4 separate regions of the Homo sapiens genome follow, and regions 1, 3 and 4 are each linked to region 2. The links come from fine-mapping of genetic effects on gene expression. A gene starts in region 2. Each other region holds a variant in brackets. All regions are shown on one strand. Distances are from middle to middle.

The links. PIP is the estimated chance that this variant, and not a neighbour inherited with it, causes the effect. A credible set is the group of variants that fine-mapping cannot tell apart.
Region 1: its variant is the best candidate, but not a certain one, in a credible set for the expression of HECW2 in blood mononuclear cells (TOPMed, PIP 0.61).
Region 3: its variant is the best candidate, but not a certain one, in a credible set for the expression of HECW2 in whole blood (TOPMed, PIP 0.56).
Region 4: its variant is the best candidate, but not a certain one, in a credible set for the expression of HECW2 in whole blood (INTERVAL, PIP 0.89).

What each region holds. Positions count from the first base shown.
Region 1 is chr2:196,240,417-196,245,568 of GRCh38, forward strand. It overlaps HECW2 (HECT, C2 and WW domain containing E3 ubiquitin protein ligase 2), which reads right to left. Exons shown (of 29, transcript NM_001348768.2): 20 at 1,668-1,788; 21 at 33-146. Among named protein-coding and RNA genes, the nearest start is that of HECW2-AS1, 17 kb to the right of the region's middle. RefSeq lists an enhancer at 793-842. The variant A/G (reference allele first, on the strand shown) is at 2,252.
Region 2 is chr2:196,591,507-196,596,658 of GRCh38, forward strand. It overlaps HECW2 (HECT, C2 and WW domain containing E3 ubiquitin protein ligase 2), which reads right to left and starts at 2,048. Exons shown (of 29, transcript NM_001348768.2): 1 at 2,002-2,048. RefSeq lists silencers at 1,277-1,656, 1,737-2,006.
Region 3 is chr2:196,202,800-196,207,951 of GRCh38, forward strand. All of the region lies in intron 28 of HECW2 (HECT, C2 and WW domain containing E3 ubiquitin protein ligase 2), which reads right to left. Among named protein-coding and RNA genes, the nearest start is that of STK17B, 34 kb to the left of the region's middle. The variant G/T (reference allele first, on the strand shown) is at 2,919.
Region 4 is chr2:196,216,710-196,221,861 of GRCh38, forward strand. HECW2 (HECT, C2 and WW domain containing E3 ubiquitin protein ligase 2) reads right to left here. Exons shown (of 29, transcript NM_001348768.2): 25 at 4,086-4,232; 26 at 3,330-3,444; 27 at 299-384. Among named protein-coding and RNA genes, the nearest start is that of HECW2-AS1, 41 kb to the right of the region's middle. RefSeq lists a silencer at 2,843-3,043. The variant C/T (reference allele first, on the strand shown) is at 2,092.

The sequences.
Region 1 (5,152 bases), 350 kb before region 2:
TGTTCCACAGGCCACTTCTCTGTTCTACTCACCCTTCCTCCCCAACGAAGGTGACATATAGCTTATTTCTCTGCAGGTCTTTTCTGGAGTAGCCCATAATCTGATTAAAAGCATCTTCTAGTAAGTGATCTCTTCGGATAATTAACCTGTCCATAAAGAGACAATTTAGAAAATACAAATTATTACTATACTATTAAAGATAATTTACTTATCTTTCTAGAACATTTCCATTTGCCACAATTAACTAGGTAAGAAGAATGTTACTTAATATCATTGCTGTCTGCAATAAAGTACACATTTGTCTTGAACTCTTAATAGCATTAGCAAAAGTTACATGAGAGAATCATTGGTAGAGTACCCTACCTATGACCAGTGTAAACAACCGGAGAATCCTATCTAAATGGTCAAATCAGTTTATCCCAGAAAAAAAATGATCATAAAACAACACCACACACACCACACACACCGCCCCCCGCCCATACATTTTGTTTAGTAAAGCAAGAACAACTCTATGAGGCAATGTTTTAAGTCTCAATGCATGTAGACAAGGAATTCAATTATTAAGTGCCCAGCAAGATGACTGTGAGAACAAAGAGGAAAAAAAAAATTCTCAATATCCTCCAAAGCAGAGGAGTTTCCAATTGTTAATTGTTAAATTAAGTGAATCTTGACAGTCCCTAAGGGACAGATACAAATGAATGATGAGTGTGGCAGGTTAATCTACTTGTGATGATGCCAATTAAAGTCATCCTTCCATAGATATCAATTTGCTCTTAATGTAAATGGTAATGGGCAGAGAGATGATAGGGAGGCTGAATGCATGACAGCTGGATCATCCTAGACCTTTGTAAGTTAAGTGTGAGAAAAGTAAAGCTCAGAGAAGTATGGTGTTTGGGCAGGCAGATGATTTTTTAGGGCAATGAAGGTGGATTTTAATCAAGCAAGCCTTCCTGCAGGTGGGGCAGTGAGCCATGGGGCTGCTGTTGGTCTGGTCTCTGGACCGTCTCTCAGGCACCCAGGGTCACAGGGGTGCTCCAGTGGAGACCGTCCCTCCTCTGTCCTCTCTCAGTGGCAGACTGATCTCCAGTGGGGACGTGGGACAGGGGTGAAGGCAGGGAGGAGAGAAAGAAGGGTAAGTAGGGAATGGAAACAATTCTAGGCCAAACAACATGATGATGTTTCAGTTTCCCCATTTGAAAGGAGGAGATGGATGAAGAAAGGCCGAAACAACATTCATGACATGTTCTGCTGTGAAGTTTGTTTCACAGAACTGAACAGAGCTGAGCACTATTCCTACACTCAGGTCAGTTCAGGAGACAGAAACTTGCAGTGGAGGACATTGGGATAGCTTTATAGCTAATGAATATACTATGCACCAACAAAGACATACTTTTCAGAGGAAAAAAATAAATCAGCCTTTTATTTTGCCTTTATTTTTGCATGAAAAGTGGCAGTGTCTTCACTATTTGTTTTAAAATGTTAAGCTTAATCATGTTTCATTCCAGGACTATGTTTTAGATGATCCTATAATTTACAAATTCCAAAATAATTATGCCGACTAAAATGAAGGCTAGTCATCCCAAATCACAATCAATTTCCTAGAGGCCCAACTGTGCCCTCTCCTTTCACCATCTATACATTATGTGGTTTGTGTCACTTTGACTTACTTTAACTTCCCTGGGCCTTGTCCATATCCTTTAGTCTCTAACTTCCTGTAAAAGTTCCTCAGTTTGGCTTCGAAATCCCGCTTGTAAGGGGCTGGAGCCCGGGCATTGGCACGCTGGGTACCTGCAGCAAACCACAAAGAGAGGACAATCTGGATTTGTGCCTCGTCCTTATGTTCATCACATCACCATGGACAAAAGCTATCACAATCAACAAGTCAAATGAGGCAACTGTCTTAACTTCTGCATTTTTGATTTCTGCAAGTTGAAGGATATAACAAACCTCAACCAAGGTCTTAAGTGACGTCCTCTTTGTGGCATTTTGGTTGAGAATAAAAATTCTGTTTGAATAGTTACAATGGTGCCCATGTGTTTCTCAAGTATGTTCCCCTTTTCAGTCGAAACTAATATGAGTCAAACAGAGTTACTCATGTCTAGTAGTAACTGTTAGGATGAAATGTCTTTGCTTGCTGCTGAAATGATATCATGGCAATTAGACAGGAAGTTGCAATGGAAAGTACATGGTATATAAGTAAGTGGCACCAAGAGTGAGGTTTTAATCATTCACTCTAAATTCCTCACCAAAA[A/G]ACTCCTCATGAAACTTTTTTTTTTTTTTTTTTTTTTTTTGAGACGGAGTCTTACTCTGTCACCCAGCAGGCTGGAGTGCAGTGGTGCAATCTTGGCTCACTGCACCCTCCGCCTCCTGGGTTCAAGTGATTCTCCTGTTTCAGCCTCCCAAATAGCTGAGATTACAGGTGCCTGCCACCATGCCCAGCTAATTTTTGTATTTTTAGTAGAGACAGGGTTTTGCCATGTTGGCCAGGCTGGTCTGGAACTCCTGACCTCAGGTGATCCACCCACCTCAGCCTCCCAAATTGCTGGGATTACAGGTGTGAGCCACCGCACCTGGCCTACAAAACTTCTTTTAGATATGCACTATCACCAAGAATGATTTTAGACACATAATTACATAAATCTCATATTGCAGGGTAAAATCTTAATATAACACATAATTGCAAAAGGCACCTGTCTCACTTGCACAAAGTGCGCACTTGCACAAAGAATAAATAATATTAATATTTATTGGATTCTTTTTTTTTTTTTGAGACGGAGTTTCGCTCTTGTTGCCCAGGCTGGAGTGCAATGGCACAATCTCAGCTCACCGCAACCTCCATCTCCCGGGTTCAAGTGATTGTCCTGCCTCAGCCTACTGAGTAGCTGGGATTGCAGGCATGTGCCACCACGCCCGACTAATTTTGTATTTTTAGTAGGGTCATGGTTTCTCCATGTTGGTCAGGCTGGTCTTGAACTCCCGACCTCAGGTAATCCACCTGCCTTGGCCTCCCAAAGTGCTGGGATTACTGGTGTGAGCCACTGCGCCAGACCATTTATTGCATTCTTAACATGTGCCAAGTACTGAGAATATCTAGATTATATAAGCATATTTTATACGTTATTCAATGGTAATTATCACTAATAATATGTAAAAGTAACATTGTTTCTCTTTCCTTTTTTTTGACACGGAGTTTTGCTCTTGTTGCCCAGGCTGGAGTGCAATGGTGTGATCTCGGCTAACCCAACCTCTGTCTCCTGAGTTCAAGCGATTCTCCTGCCTCAGCCTCCCGAGTAGCTGGGACTACAGTCTTGCACCTCCACGCCCAGCTAATTTTGTATTTTTAGCAGGGACGTGGTTTCTCCATGTTGGTCAGGCTGGTCTCGAACTCCTGACCTCAGGTGATCCGCCCACCTCGGCCTTCCAAAGTGCTGGGATTACAGGCGTGAGCCACCATGCCCAGCCAATTGTTCCTCTTTCCATAGAAAAATCTGGTTTTGTGTCACTGGGTAACACAAGCAGCAGGTTGGGATAGAAAACTGATGATGAATATGGAAATCAGACACAGAGCCATGACAAAAACACTGGATATTTCCACTAAATATTTCCCAACCAATGAAAGAAACCAGAAAACAAAAGCTGGGAAGTCTTGTTCATTACATACCATGTAAGTTCATTAAAAATGTCTCTAACAAATGAGTGAACTAAATAGTTGTTATTCATTGGGAATACTATGTTAGGTTCACCAATGGATGTCCAAAATGAGTAAGGTGGGGTTGCTGGAGTGGGTTGGGGAAACAGAAATAAAACATCAAACAATTAGAGAATAATTAAGTCCTGAACTAGGTATACAGACTAGAAAGCAGAGGAAACAAAGCTATACCCCTGGGGCTATACCTAGTCCTATAGATCCCAGTTGCTTGCCCCATAATCTTTTTTGAATATTTTAAATTAATTGCCAACATTTACAAATTAAATTTCAAATTTAAAAATTCCAGATTTTTCTCTTGAAAATTATTTGGGAAATCTTGCAATGACTGGCTTGCATTTCCTTGGGGATCCAGCGGGCAGCTGCAGCTACTCTGTTAGACGAGGCATGAGCTCACCACTTTGCGGCAGCCACTCAATGACATGGCTGCCTGCCCCCCAAGCCCCGCAAGCATTTGTTAAGATCAGTGTTACACAAAAGTAATAGTAATGTTATAAAAAAGAAATGAGTATAAGTAGAGATCAAAGTGGAAAAGGCCTTAGGGAGGAAGCTTAATTGGAACCACACCTTGCAAAAGAAGGAGAATTTATATCCTAAAGTGGAACACAGCAGCAACAGCTGGCATGAGCACTGCATGTGTGTTCAGAAGACACCAAGAGAACCAAGCTAGCCTAGAGTGGAGGAGGAGTGCTGGGAGTAAATGGGAAATGAAATTGATCAGAAGGGTTGGAGCCAAATTATGACAAGAATTTTTAAAACCTAGCAGAGGAGTTTGGGCATGATGCAGTGAACAGTGCCTTTATAGGTTCTTGAGCAGAAGAATAACATACAAATGGTGTTTTATTTAAGAAATTATTTTCAGAGTGTGTTGAGTAAATTAAGGGTGGGCAAGAGGAAAGAGCCCCAGTTAGGAGTTGTTGCAGTAATTGAAGCCTGAGGGGATAAGGACTAGACTGGAGTGAGTGACTCAGAGAAACATCTACAATGTGAAATATGCACTGGGAAAAGAATAGATAAGCAAGAAAGAAGAATGGGAAGCATGATGATAATATAAAGTGTATTTAAACAATAACAACAGGTCTTACTTGTTAAGCGCCTGCTGTACATTACAGATGATGCACGTTACACAGGGGATCTTGAGAAATCCTCACAAGTCTACGAAGCGGGTATTACTAGGACCATCACACACCACTTTGCAACTAAAGAAAATGAAGGTGCAGTTTCCTGTCCAAGTCATATTCCAGTGACAGTAGATTTGGGATTTGAGCCAAGTCTATCTACCTGATGCTATGAAGAGTGTGGGAAGTGATGCAGGTGGACAAGGGCATGTGAAACTTTATACATATTGACTTGGATATGACAGCTAACAAAATGCCCTAGAGACTGAAAAATACAGGGCTGGAATTGGGGTGAGAGCTCAGGGCCACACGTGTGGATGAGCTGAGT
Region 2 (5,152 bases):
ATCAAAACAAATAGCTCAATTGGGACTTTTTGAATGTTCAACAAAAAGAAAAATTAAAGCTGGTTAGACTGCTGGATAGTAACGTTACAGTGTCTCCTTTAAGAGATCAAAATGTCTTTGCCACCCTCCACCCCACCCTACCCCACCTCTAATAGTGAAGTGGATAATTTCTGAAGAATACAATGACCCTTTATGCCTGGCTTCTCTAGTCTGCTAGGGATGCCATCTGTCTCCCACGCTATATAAACAATCCCCGCAGGAATCTTCTGATGACCAAACAGATTAGCAAACTCCAGATTTTCACGCCATTAATAATATCCCCATCCAGATTAGGCCTTTTATTTTAATAACTCCAAAGATAAAGTCAATAACTGATCTTTCTTTCTTTGTAGATAATGTGTGTGTCATTTTAAAGATAACCTCTTGGAACATACAGCCATCTGTTGGGAAGAGAAAGAAAAAAAGCTCTCTCAAAGCAACAGAAGAAATGAACCCTCGAGGGAATAGGAGAAATAGTAAAAAGAAAATCATATTTATAAGACAAACACATGGAGAGCTCTACTAATTACACTAAAATATTCTTCTTCTAAATGACAAACTATAGAACACTACTCCAGAAAAGACAAGTTTCACACTTTCACAAAGGTATATATATACGAAAACAGTTTGCGTGAGTCTAGGACAGTGAAAGCAGAAATCATAACCCAAAAGCTAAAGGCCCCCGAAGTTTGCATGCTGTCCACCTCTATCTGTAATGATCACAAATGTTTTCCTTCCTGAAGTTTAATATCGATTGAACCCTTGTAACTCTAATTGTGAGCTCTCTGTACTGACTCCAAAGACTTCTAACTCTAAAAGAAATGTGCCTGTAAAGATGTTCTCTAAATTAATAATAATAAACGACGAAAAGCACCCGAGCGCTGCTAATAGTGAAGACAAGGCATGAGAGAGTCAGACCTCTGCAGTCTCGCGTCCTCGGAAACGTCTACGTCTAAATCTGCAGCCCCAGTTTGCTCCAGGCCCCAAGCTCCAGCAGAGGATGTTCACGGCACATTCCCAACCAAAAAGGAAATGAAGCGTCCTCTCCCTCAACTGATGCTCAAATAGACCCCAAAGTCCCAGTTTCCCTGGAGAACCAAACCATCCAACACATCCTGGGCAGCGGAAACCGAAATGGCAAATGAATGACCGCGCCGGGGCGCAAGGGAGGAAAAACAAAGCCACCTCCCGCCGTCCGCTACCTGCGGCGAGGGCCGCGCGCTCACCTGGGCTTTGCGCCCGTCGCCACAAGCTGCGGGTGGGGACCCGGCCGCGGGGCGGGAGGGCGCCCCCAAAGTCGCCCGGACCCGCGGCCCCGGCGCCCTGCGGCCGGTCCGTGCGCGCCGAGGAGAAAGCAGGCGGCCGGGGGCGCCGCCGCGCGTTGCATGCAGCTCACGGCTGCTGCGGCCGCTGCCACGGAGCCGAGAGTCTCTGCGCTGCAGTCCCCGACCCCGAGACCGCGAGAAGCGCCCGGAGAGACGCGGCGCAGGGGCAGAGCGCGCTCGGCGCGCCCCTCAGCGGCTCTTCCCGCCGCCCTCCGCAGCGGGCTGGGTCTCGGCTCGCCTTTGTGCTGGCATCTTCCTAGCTCCCAGCGACACCCAGAGCTCTCGAGGCGGCTCCGCGCCGCCACCCACCCCCGGGTTACGCCACGGCCCCCGCGCGACCCGCCGATTGTGTCGAGTCAGCAGCGGCAGCGGGGACGCGCGAAGCCATGGCTCCCGCCCGCGCTCGGGAGGGCGCCGGGGGTCCTGCGCCTCCGGGAGGTTTGTGGCCGAGCGCGGCGCGGCCCCGAGCGGCCCCGCAGCGCCCGGCTCCCCGCCGCTCGCTCTCCAGGCGCCGACCCGCCTGCGTCGCCACCCTCTCGCCGCTCCCTGCCGCCACCTTCCTCCCGCCCGGGTGCCGGGCGTCCGCTCCAGCCGCGGTGCCCCGGTCCGCGGAGAGCGAAGAGTCCGGCCTCCTCACCTCCAGCCGCGCCGGCGCCCTTCCCGCTAGACGCTTCGGCGGCATCTGCCCGCACCGCCCTGCGGGACGCTGGGCTGGGAGCTGGCGGCACGTCGGGGACCGGTGGAAGGGAGGCGGGGGCAGAGGACAGGAGGGACAGCCAGACCTTGGCCAGCGGGACCTCCCTGAGGAAGGTGCGGAAGAACGGGGCGGGTGCGGCTGGGCGGAGGACGAGTCCCGAGGCTGCGGCGGAGCCTGAGTTGCTCTCCTTCTGCGAAGTCGAAGGACAGGAGGATTCCTAGAGGTGTCGCGGAGGGTGGAGGAGACCCTCTGAGGTCGTGCAGACAACACTGTTCCTCAACCCCACCAGAAAGCTGAATAGGGGAGTGTCATGCCTCGGTTTCCCCAACTGCAAGGGCAAGACGGTAATACTCATGTCGCACACACAGGGTGTGGTCACGATGAAAAAATGGATTATTGAAAGCGTTCCCAGATACTTTGCCTAAAGAGGGCACTAAAATTTAAAATTACTGTATTAATACTTTCGGCTTTCTGTTTACTTCTATAGCATCTTCATCAACCAGTCCCACGTAGGAGAAAAAGTAAAAATGCTAAAGTGTAAATATATTGTGTCCCTCCCCACCCACCCTTGCATCTGTCCAGATTTAGGGAAGATTTATTCAATTTTACAATTTAACTATATCCATATGGAGTAAGTCCCCAAATAATGGATAGCCATTCCTTTGGGACTTTTGAGTGTGTGCTCAATATTATCCATTTCTCCGCCTTTTCTGGTAACAGCAGTTCATTATTCCTATGGGAACTGCCCTTCCCCCTCACCCACAATGAGTCTTTGTGGCTCCAGGGTACTGACACCTCCCACCCTCAACCCCCAGAACTAGCCAGTCATCTTCCGGACCGCAGTGATCGGTTCTGGGTTGGGCATGTTGATCCAGGAACTCGGCCTAGGGCTTTGGATGTATTACTGCAGAAAAATAAGCTCTTTAAACTAGGATAACTAAATTGGAAGGATATAAGCCTACGGTAACAAGGACCAACAGTGCATGCCAATGAAGCCAACTTTGAGGGAAGAAAAGCTGCTGGTGAGAGGGTGATGTCCCACCCTCTCAGGAACCTCAGGAGGTAGATGTGTCTGCAGTGAACTCTACCCTTGAAGCCAATAAATCCTCTCTCTTTTATTTCAAGTCAGTGTCAGCTGTGTTTTGTCACATGTCTCAGAGGAGCCCTGACTTCTTAGTCCCCTGGATCTATCAGCCCAGGCATCACTGTTAGGATCCTCCACAGAATCAAAGAGCCCCACCCCACAAAAGGCCCAATTCCAGTTCTTGCTGGAAGAACAGGGATCCTAGAGGTTTGTTCCCACATGATGTTCTCCTTCACAACTTACTCAAATCCAGCAACCCCACACCTGCAATCCTTAGCTTCTTTGTGTTGATTAACCACTATGTTACATTCTAGTCAAAATGGGCCAGGTGCAGTGGCTCACACCTGTAATCATGCCTGAGGCAGGAGGATCTCTTGAAGCCAGGAGTTTAAGACCAATCTGGGCAACATAGTGAGACCCCACTAACACAGGAACAGAAAACCAAACACTGCGTTTTCTCACTCATAAGTGGGAGCTGAACAATGAGAACACATGAACACAGGGAGGAGAACATCACATCAGGGAGGAGGGGCCTATCGGGGGTTGTGGGGCTAGGGGAGGGATCTCATTAGGAGAAATACCTAATGTAGATGATGGGTTGATGGGTGCAGCAAACCACCATGGCACGTGTATACCTATGTAACAAACCTCCACGTTCTGCACATATATCCCAGAACTTAAAGTATAATACATTAAATAAAGAAAGAAATAAAAATAAAAATAGCCAGGCATGGTGGCCTGAACCTGTAATCGCAGTTACTCTGGAGGCTGAGGCAGGAAGATCAGTTGAGCCCAGGATTTCAAGACTGCAATGAGCTGTGATTGCACCACTGCACTCCAGCTTGAAGACAGAGCAAGACCCTGTCACCTTGTCAAAAAAGAAGAGGAAGAGGAAGAAGAAGGAGGAGGAGGAGGAAAAAGAAAGAAAGAAAAGAAAAACAGAAAAAGAAAGAAAAGAAAAGAGGAGGAAGGGAGGAAGGGAGGAAAGGAGGGAGAAAGAAGAACCCTAAAAATGAATAGAGGCAAAGTGAATCACTATTGCTGCCCTAGGTCTTAAAAAACATTTTTCTCTCACTTTAAAAGCAGCCCCTACTACCTTTAAAACTTTCTACATATCGACCATTAAAACCGAGACTAAGGCATCAAAGAACATTAATAGCAAAGTCATCCTAAAAATCTCAAACTTGCAAAGGTGTGTAAAGATTAGGTAGGTTCTTTCACACTGCACTCCCCGTTCGTCATCACCACCACTCTCCTTCACAAGATCTCTGACCGGGTCTCACTTATCCTCTCCTGGAGCCATTCCCTTAAAGAGAACTCAGTACTTTACAAGCTGGTCAATTCTGCATTGAAACTGGCCTGACATTAGGAAGTGATCCCTTATATTGAGTTGAAATATTTCTTCCACCTGAGAGTACTCCAAGCACTGAAGACAAACTTGTGAACCACTTGAATTGTCTCTTTTCCAAGATCTTTGCATGACCCATAAGTCATGCAGGACACATGGCAATGTGTCCTGACCCTTCATCATCCTAGGTTACTTCCTTTCTACAGATGTGCCAAGGTTTGTGACTGCTCCTTCTAAAGCATATGGCCAAAGCTAAACCCAAAGGCAGATTCCAAGAAACTTATACTCCAGCCCTCTTCCAACAACACAGAAGGAGCCTGAGAGACATGTTCATGTGGTCTTATATTTTTATAAAAGCTTCCAAAGTAAGATATTTTAATCTCAAGCGATTTGCAGTGGACTGAATGTTTGTGCTCCCCCAAATTCATGTGTTGAAATCCTAACCCCTAATGTGATGGTATTAGGAGGTGGGGCCTTTGGGAGGTGATGGAATAAATGCCCTTATAAAAGAAACCCAAGAGAGCTCTCTCACCCTCTTTCTGCCTCTTGAGGATACAAAGAAAAGATGGCAGTCTGCAACTGGAAGAGGGCCTTCCCACCCACATCACAACCACACTGGCACCCTGATCTCATTCTTCTGGCGTCCAGAACTGTGAAAA
Region 3 (5,152 bases), 390 kb before region 2:
CAAAATGCTTGGCACCAGAAGTGCTTTGGATTTCAGATTTCTTTGGAATTTGGAATATTTGCATATATATAATGAGATATCTTGGGGAATGGGACCCAAGTCTAAACATGAAATTCATTTACGTTTCACATGCACCTTGTATACACAGACTGAAGGTAATTTTATACCATATTTACATAATTTGGTTCATGAAACAAAGTTTTGACCGCGTTTTTGACTGCACCCTGTCATATGAGGTCAGTTGTGAAATTTTCTACTTGTGGCATCATGTTGGCACTCAAAAAGTTTTGGATTTTGGAGCATTTTAGATTTAAAATTTTTTGACTAGGGATACTCCAACTGTATGAGTTTTAGGGTATAGAGATAGTACCGACTCACCCACTCCTAGTACTGTAAACTCTGGGATATATTGGTGGAAATCATCTAATGAATCTTTGCAGGCAAACCCTTTTTTGATACAATAAGCATTTCAGAATTGCATTTGATATCCTTAGACTGGAACGCAAATTGAGCCTCAAGAAAAGGTTTTACTTATTTAAAAATTCAACTTGTATACTACACTAGAGTCCTAGCAGTGGTTTATAATCTATCATCTGTGAAACACTGGAATAAAAATATTAAATAAAGATTTATCTCTGTTCCAGGGGTAGGGGAGGAAGAAGCAGAAAAGTAGAATACGTTTTGAATATAATTCTATGCCAAACTGTGTGTGTCAGACAAATAACATTTATTATCCTATTAGACTAACAGATGACACCACAATACTATTTTACAATTTTCATTTCTTTGGTTACCAATAAGGTTGAGCATCTTTCCCCCATGTCCTCTTGCTTTTTACATTTCCTGTTTTGTGATCCATATGTTCATCTCTCTTGCCCGATTAACTTTTCAGTATTTTTATTGTGATAAAATATACATAATATAACATTTACCATTTTAACTATATTTAAGTGCACAGTACCATGGCATTAGTACACCTACGTTATTTTGCAACCATCATCACTATCCATCTCCAGAACTTCTGCATCTCGCAAAACTGAAATCTGTATCCATTAAATAGTAACTCCCATTTCCTCTCCCCCTAGCCCCTGGAAACCACCATTCTACTTTGTGTCTCTATGAATTTCACTACCCTATGTACTTCATATAAGTGGAATCTTAAAATATTTGTCTTTTGTGATTGGCTTATTTCACTTAGCATATTTTAAGGTTGATGTTGTAGCATGGGTCAGAATTTCCTTCCTTTTTAAGGCTGAATAATGTTCCATTGTATGTATATACCACATTTTCTTTATTCATTCATCCATTAATGAACAGGAGTTTTTTTCCTACCGTTTGGCTATTGTAAATAATGCTCCTATGAACATGAGTGTACAATTATCTGTTTAAGTCCTCCTTTTCAATTTTTTGGGGGATATACACAGAAGTGCAACATCATATTGCATTTTTCATAGTGGCTGCAACATTTTACATTTCCATCAACAGTGCACAAGGGTTCCAATTTCTCTACATCCTCACCAACACTTATTTCTTGTTTTTTGTTTGTTTGTTTGTTTGTTTTATAATAGCTATTGTAATGGGTATGAAGTCCATTCACCTTTTAAAGCCTTAGGATTTCTTATTAAAATCAAGAGAGACTCTCACTGTTGTTGAATTTGAAGAAGGAAGCTACTATGAATTCTATAGCTGCAAGGAATGAATGCTGCCAACAACCCAAGGGAACTTGGAAGCAGATTCTTCCCTAGTTGGTCCTCCAAATGAGAATGCAGCCCCACCCACAGCTTGATTTCAGCCTTGTGAGACCATGAGCAGAAGACCCAGCTAAGCTGTGCCTGGATGCCTGCTCCATGAAAACAGTGAGATCATAAATGTGTGTTGTTTTACACTGCTAAATTTGTGGTAATTTGTTTTGCATCAGTAGAACCAGTAACAGGTCTCAAGGTAGTGAAACAGTTCAAGAAAAGGTGGCAAATGTGATGTTAAGTGTGATACAGTAGAATCATCTATCCAGGACAGGTGGTGAAACAAAGCTAGGGGTTGGCAACAGTTCTTTCATTCTCCCAGGTTTCTGAGTAGAGAAACAGGAACTTTGAATGTCTCTTTGCCATTTCTGTAGTATCTTTGCAGGTACTCTAGAAGCTTATCCAGTAAATCCACAAGCCTAAATACTCTTTTCAGTTCTCAACACAAAGGGAAGGCAAAGGGAAGGACTAGACAACCTTTTTTGTTCCTCTGCAGTCGTAAGACATAATCAGCATTACTAATCCATAATCTAAGGCTATTGCTGCTTCATAAATTACATCTGGTTGCATAATATATGGTTACCATAACACAACTTTCCTTCTAATAAACTAAACAGCTCCTCTGGAAAATATTTCGCGATGATGGGGAAAGCATATATTGTGGAGGGGGAAACTGTGTGGAAAGATTAAATGGTTTTCCCAAGGTCAAAGCTGAGTCAGTGGCCAAATCAAGAAAAGGACCTCAGTTCTGGGTCTCCTAGGGAAAGTCCAACATTAAACTGAAAGCGGGGAGATTAATGCTCATGGCTTCATTCTTTTACTTTTGGAAGCCTGAGTATTAATTTTATCCTACCTCTGACTACGAACTATTATTCCTCAACATCCTACTAGATTATCCACATTTTGAGGACAAGGATTGGCAAAATAAAGCTTCAGATATTTTTTAAATGAATAATTCAATCACAATATGCAGTAGCTCTGGGGAAAATGGCTGAGATTGAGTCAATCCAGAAAACCCTGAAAAATACCAGGGGATTTTTAGGTGATCATACCATCTAGCTCAATCTCAGGCTTAATAGAAGAAGGCAAATACTCAAAAGGATACTTTAGAGTGTATCAAAATCACTCCAGGAGCTTGTTTTACAATGGAGATTTTTGGTTGCACCCCTTGTGATT[G/T]TAATTCAGAAGGTTTGGGGTGGGCCTGGGGGAATATGCATTTTAATAAATATGCCAAGTGAGTCTGATGCAGGTGGTCTCCACTATTGGAGAGGCATCAAGTGGATTAGCAACATGATACCTACATTGGCTATTTGCACCAGTGTTTTATGTGCTTGCAGAAATTTCAAAACTCCTTATAAACAAGACAGCATTGCTAATAAGGAAATTGAGGAATAGTGTGGTTAAATAAATTGCCCAATATTTACCATCAACTTGCTCTATGAGCCAAGGCCAGGAAAAAAACAAAAAAAATGGCAAGCAACACATAATCCTTGGAGGCTTTTCACACCCCCACTCCCACCCCATTCCATGTCCTAAGAAAACTTTAGCAGAAAATAACAGGAGGGCCCTGGACTGTGTTGATGTTGGCAGCAAAAGTGCATCCAGCTATTCAGTCTCAATAAAAGAACATTTTTCAAATCTTTCAAAGCCAGTCACACTAAAGCTATAATGGGTTTACCTCATTTTAATCTATTTAGCCAGAACCACTCAAGGAAAGCAGGTCTGAACCCATCTTTGGGAAATCATGCTGGCATCAATATTAAGAAGATTTAAAAATTCTCCAGACATCTGGTCTGACTTAATAGATCTCTTGGTGCTTTCTGGATTCTTCAAAAATGTTAATCAGGAGGTCACATGCTTACCCTCCCTTTTTCCCTACAGATAGACAAGTCAATTAGATAAATCCAGTGAGCCAAAAGTATCAGTTACATTTCCATTTCCATAGATTGGTTTGTTGATTAATTTCTCTCTCTGTATGTGAATGTACTTAATTTTCCAATTTGCATTATATTTCATTTATTCCTTCACTCGCTGAATAAGTACTTACTAAGCATATACTCCATGCCAGGGATTCAGCTGTCCTCTGAGAGATGAGGATGAAAAGTCTGGTTTCTGTCCTCAAGGAGTTTACACTGTGGCAGCAAAATATACAGGCAAAAAGACCCTCTAAAGTTTGTGTATCCTGTGCTCTGGGGCAAGCAGGAACTGAAATCCAGCCTTCCTTTGGCTCTGCTTGCCAAATTGTGAGCCCTAGCTGCAGGCTGCATTTCTCCAAAAGGCTAGGAGACACCTTTGTTTCATTAGTCCCAAAGATGGGCTATTAGTGGCCCTGCATACAAACAGTTAATAATACTATGAGTTACAAGTTTGCTCAGCAGAGCCAAGGAAGGTTCATAGAGGACACTATCTGTGCCAAGGCTTGAAAGATTTGTAGGTGTGCAGGTTTTCTCTGAATCAACAACAAGGAGAAGGATGTTCCCAGCAGATGGAACATGACATTGCATCATCAGGAAACCTGAGAGGGGCAAGCGCCTAAGGGACAGGAGGCAAGGTTGGACCTGAGGCCAGATGGGGAGGCAGGGACACATCAGGAAGCCAGGAGTGTTCTTGCAAAAACCTTTTCCAGTTATTTCATGGATGAAAGAAAGAAAAGTGGGTTGGCAGAGGTATCTTTAAATAAGGCAGGGAATATAGGAAATGGGTAGAGGGACAGATGATGAATTCAAGGGCGTGAAATCAGCATGAGAAATCCAAAGTTACCAATTAAATAGAGTGATCGAATTCCATTAAAGGAATCCAGTTATAGTTTTGTTAGCCTGGGTAGCTTTATTAACACAACTAATGGTAAAACTTGTTAGAATTTTTAAAATATTCATAATTTATCTAATATCCTCATGAATACCTTCTTAGGCCATGAGGTTTAGAGCAGAAATTCCTATTAAGAGTAGGGCACAAATATGTGTGTAACTTATGGCAGCAGAGCACAATGCCCTGACCTTCACCAGGTGTTCGGTAAAGGTGAATTCATGGAAAGAAATTCTATGGTGCTTGCTATTCCAACTACTCATTGGTCATGTTCCATTTTGGGACCAATGATGTTGGTTATCTGTTCATGTAAATATCCATTGCTTCTCTCCCTGTGTTTTAAGGTCAACGTATATCTCCCACAAGGTTCGGCACTTAGTAAAGCCATGAGGAGTATCTATAGACGGGTGAGGGGAATTAATCTATTCACTAATTAATGTCTTATTCCAAAGTCTCATTAGGTCACTTTGGTTAAGGTGCACTTGGATCTGTAAATACAAAGTGGAATATTCCCATAGGGGGGAATTCCTGTATCTGGGGTAACTAGCAGAAGAAACTCTTCAAACTATGCATTCTGAGCAGGTACCTTCTTCACTTGTGAATGC
Region 4 (5,152 bases), 370 kb before region 2:
TGGGTGCTTCTTGCTGAAGGGTCCAAGCTGTCCTGAAGGCAGATGTTGTTACTGGGATTCTTGGACTGGACTTGACACTTCCCTAAACTCTCATGAAATGCTTTAAGTTGGCTTAGGGAAGTTCTGAATAGCCATGGAGTCACATAACCATGCAATCAGGAGTCTGGAAATGGTGTATCTCATATTTCCAGATACACATGGTATGTGTTTATGGAGAATAGTTAGCAGTTATTAAAAACATACACTTCCAACAATAATCATATTGATACATTTAAAAGATTAAATAATGGCATCTCACCTGTAACAACCTTAGTCGTTGTTCATTGTTGAATCTTTCCACTGCAGCCCAGAACCACCGAATTACAATATGATTGTCATGGTATCCTATCAAACCAATCATAAAAGCCCATGTTACTTTGACTCTTCTATATTAAGCCACCAAGATACGTGACACGAAGAGTCCCCAGACATAAATCATCCTCTTGAATTCTTTACAAGTTGTCTATAATTTTAAGACTAAGGAATAACACTGTATATATGATCATATGAATGTCAAAAGTTAAACAAAAACAACATTAAGTGAAACCAAGAGGTCTCTGTTTTCATTTAACGGTCACTAAGTGAAACTAGTAAAGAGAAGAACAACAAATGAGTTATTTTAACCATATCATTTCTGTAAAATACAACAGTTGTTACTGGAAATACTTAACTCTTTCGGTCATTCACATAAGAAATAATTTTCAAATACCTCTATGCCAAGCACTGTACCAAGGTTGGGGGCATAATGGCAAAGAAAACAGACCCTCCCAGGGCTTCTGGCAGAGGGGAGACACATTAATCAAATAATTTATACAAACAAATACATAACTGCAAGCTCTCTTAAAAGCTATATATAATATTCATACTTTAAAATCAACTTAGTTTCACATTGACTTACTAATAAAAAGGGAAAAGTGACCTTTAGTTCCTTAAATAAATCCTGAGTAATCACCAACTTAATTTTACTCTTATTCCATACTTTAGTAGAATTTAAGAAAATGTCAAAGGAATCACCTCATGGGCAGTGATGATGGATTCCAAAAACCTTTCAGTGAAAACAAAAATTAAATTCAGAGAAAAGGCTAACAAGGATTTAGTGATTCAAACCAATGAATAGACATAGTTAATGGGCACTGAGTTAGTAGTCCAGAATAGAAGGCGGGTAGAAATTATTTTAATCCAAATTTTTCCTCACATTTCAGTAGTTGTAGGATTTGGGAGGAATCTCACCTTACTGTTTACCATTTCAGTGATGTTTAGTCCCCTTTGGAGAAAAAAAGGATCAAAGAGAAGGCTGATCAAAACTGGATTGAACATGAGGACACATGGGCCATGCCCAGAGTTTGGTGAAGACTAGCAATTTGGTACTGAGCAAAGTTTCTCATCTACAAAAGAAGTGCACTGGCTCTTTGTAGCTTTAAAGTTTTTTGACCTTATGAATTAGCCCTTTTCTGCTTCCCTTTTGCTATTTGTGCCAAACCTTTTGGAGGAAGAAGAGTGAATGTGTCTCATCATATTCTCTCCTAGCAGCTGGGGTGTGAACATATGGCAGGTGGCAGCCACACAGCCGCTTCTTTACTCAGTGCCAAGTAGCTGGGTGAGCAAACATGGCAGCTGAGGTTCTCAGCATTTTTCTTCCCCCTCCCAAAGATTTCATTTGATAAGATTTACAATAACCATATAAATAGGTCCTTGATTAGTCAGATTTAGTGAATAAAATTTTATGCCATGAAAATACAAAAATGGCTGATTCTATTAATGCATTGCTATTAGAATCTCCTGGGTCCGGGCGTGGTGGCTTACACATGTAATCCCAGCACTTTGGGAGGCCAAGGCAGGAGATCGCTTGAGGCCAGGAATTCGAGACCAGACTGGCCAACATGGTGAAACCCCATCTCTACTAAAAATACAAAAATTAGCCAGGTATGGTGGCATACACCCTCTGTCTGAAAAAAAAAATTCATCTCCTGGAAGGAAAGAATGAGCTAATAATATTTATGGTAAAATATAACTTATGTAGCATGTCAGAGAAATTGTGCTCTCAGTAAAAAT[C/T]GATGGGTTAACAACATTATAATAACCAAAGAGATACATGGATTATACTTGGGCCAACTGGAAAATACTTATTTCAGCAATTGGACTTCAGAAATAGAAGCAATGGAAACTGCAATTAAATACAGCCTTTCAGATTAAATGTGTGAGCAAGGCCAGCCCATGGTGCAGGGATGAGCTGGAACAGGCAAGCACAGGCATAACCAAAAGCAATTTAGCAAATGTTAAGGCATTTTTTTACTACAAACTTTTAAAACTACCTTTTTTAAAAAAAATCTCTGCTTCAACTTAGAGATAACTAGAGAACTGTTCAGCTCTCAATTTACTCTGCTAAGTGATTAATTCAGTGATGTTAGGTTTGTAGTTTTCATTCTCCAAGTTCAGAACTACTTCTAATCTCTTATACTTTGAGTTAAAAAACAAAACCCAAAGGAGAAAACAACTGGTATTTGTCATGAATTTCTGAAGGCTTCCTAACATGGTGATAATTTTCAGAAAATGTATTCTTTGCTTAAAATTATTTAATAAAACCTTAACTCTGGGTTACCACCAGGTCCCTTGCAAAGTGTTGGTTTAACACTCAAATTTCAATGGCTTTGGTCCCAGTTACTAATCAATAATTTGTACTGATCTGCAGAAGTGTCACTTTTTTAGCTTCCCATTTTGTGAAGTGTCAGATAGTGCAGTTTTTAATTAATCTTACTACAGTCTTCTTTTCACTTGAAATTCATGCTTGAATTTAGAACTTCTCCAATAATGTTGTATTTTGGGAACTGTGTCTTATTCCATTCAAGTGTTCTGACTATGAATTACAACTGATAAGGAGCGTAGTGAACAGTGGAAAAACTGTGCTGATTGGGAAGCTCAAAGGGTGTGCTTTTCTAAGTTTTAGAAACAAAATGGAATAGGTGGAGTTTGACCAGCTGGATGTTAGCTCCTTGGTGCTTCACTGACAACACGATAAAGTAATTAATTAGTGTTCTTACGGTCACATTTCCTCACCAACAATTAAGAGTTATGACATCCTTTGACGGTGTGTAAACAGTCCTTCTCCCATCTGACAGATGAGGTAATTAGGAAAAGAAGAGAATGTACCTTGCCCAAGGTCTCAAGGGAGCCTGCATCAGACCTATGATTAGAGTCCAAGTGCTGTTGCCTGTCCTATATTCAGTTGGCAAGCTGAACCATGCCTTCCTTTAATTTGAAATTTAAAATCTAGCCATCTATAAATCAAATTTCACCTCCTCTATATTCTGTGTTGTTTCTCCAATCACTTAGGTCTATTTCAGCTGTGCCTGCGATGACCAATTCCAGTTCTCTTGCATCAAAAACAGATACCAGCCTGGCATCCACCACCTGTGGAATAAAAAGAGTACAAGGCATGGCTTAGGAGCCTGGAGAAATATCAGCTATAATTAAGCCTTAGAAAAGGGGACACATGGAGTTTCAGGAATAATATGTGTGTACCTTGTGTTGGCACTTGAAAACCTGTAAAGCTCCCTACAAATATAAGGCATTCTTTAGTATAAGGTTGATGAGATTTGCCTTGACAGAATTTTTGTTTTATAATTGATTGCTGATTAATCTAGGTCCCGTCCACCTTTAGGAAACTATCTAGTGTTTCTACAGAAAAAGTCACATACAATACATGCCAACTCATTCTGATCTCAGATATAATTATTTCACATAGCAAGCATGAGATTTGATTACCCATATCTAAGCATAAGATGCATGGCTTAAATGTTACTAGTGGTCATTAAATCAACAAATGCTACTTGAATGCAGTCCATAACATTTATTTCAGTGATCTCTCGTAACAGTGAGTTAAGCTTCTTTTGGTGCTCTTGAAACATAAGGGAAAAAATACTGAACTTTTCGCATGGAAAGAGCAACAGTAAATACAGCAGAAATAGTCTACACATGTAAAGTACAATAAGATGGACTGTGGCATCATTGATATCAGACTGCAAACTCCTCCTACTGCTGATTGTCTTTACCTCATAGAAGCCACGCACTAAGCTCTCTGTTTGCTGTACAACACCCCTCTCAATCCTCCACTTCACCATCCTCTCGATGTACTCCTTCTTGTTCTTCTCTGTAACTGGGATATTGGCACCCCCTGGCTTTAATTCTCGTTCAGTTATCTGAGATTACAAAATAAAAAGAATGACTACAAAGCAATACTCTTAATGTTATAACAACATTACTAGCATTGAGCTGAAATCAGCCAGCTACCTGTCCCAGCCCTGCCCTAGGCACATCCCACAAGCTGGCAGTGAGGCCCCAGGCACTCACGGAGCACACACACTCAGGAAAAAATAGGCATTGAGGGGGTGCTTGAAAGCTTTGGTGATTAAAGTATATATATGTATTGCTGTTACTACAGGTTAAGTTTTAAAATGCCGATGAATCGGCTTCAGATACTAGCCTGCTACTATTTGAATGTTTGACAAAACCCATTTTCACAAATTTCTCAGAATTGACTATATCTAGCGTAAAGATTTACTTTAAAGCAGAATTACACTCAAGTGAATGTTAAATTGAGAACTTTTTCAAAACACATGGAATGCAGAAAAGCAGCTAAAGATTAATGCCTAAATAAGAATATTAATTATAAACTGGTATATAATTTCTGGAAGAAACGTTTTCCCTACTCTTCCACCAATTTTGAAAAAAAAATTAATATATTCTGTTCTTAAGTCTTCCCCAAAACATTGTTTATGTTCCCTTAGCTTCAAAAAAATCAATTTTGGTTCTCTTTATTTTTCTTTTCTTTTTTGAGACAGGGTCTCACTCTCGTCCCCCAGGCTAGAGTGCAGTGGCATGATCCAGGCTCACTGCAGCCTCAACCTCTCCAGCTCAGGTGACCCTCCCACCTTGGCCTCCTGAGTAGCTGGGACTACAGGTATGTGCCACCACACCTGGCTAATTTTTGTATTTTTTGTAGAGATAGGGTTTCACCATGTTGCCTAGGCTGGTCCTGAACTTCTAGGCTCAACTGATCCTCCTGCCTTGGCCTCCCAAAGTGCTGGGATTACAGGCATGAGCCACCGTGCCCAGCCAC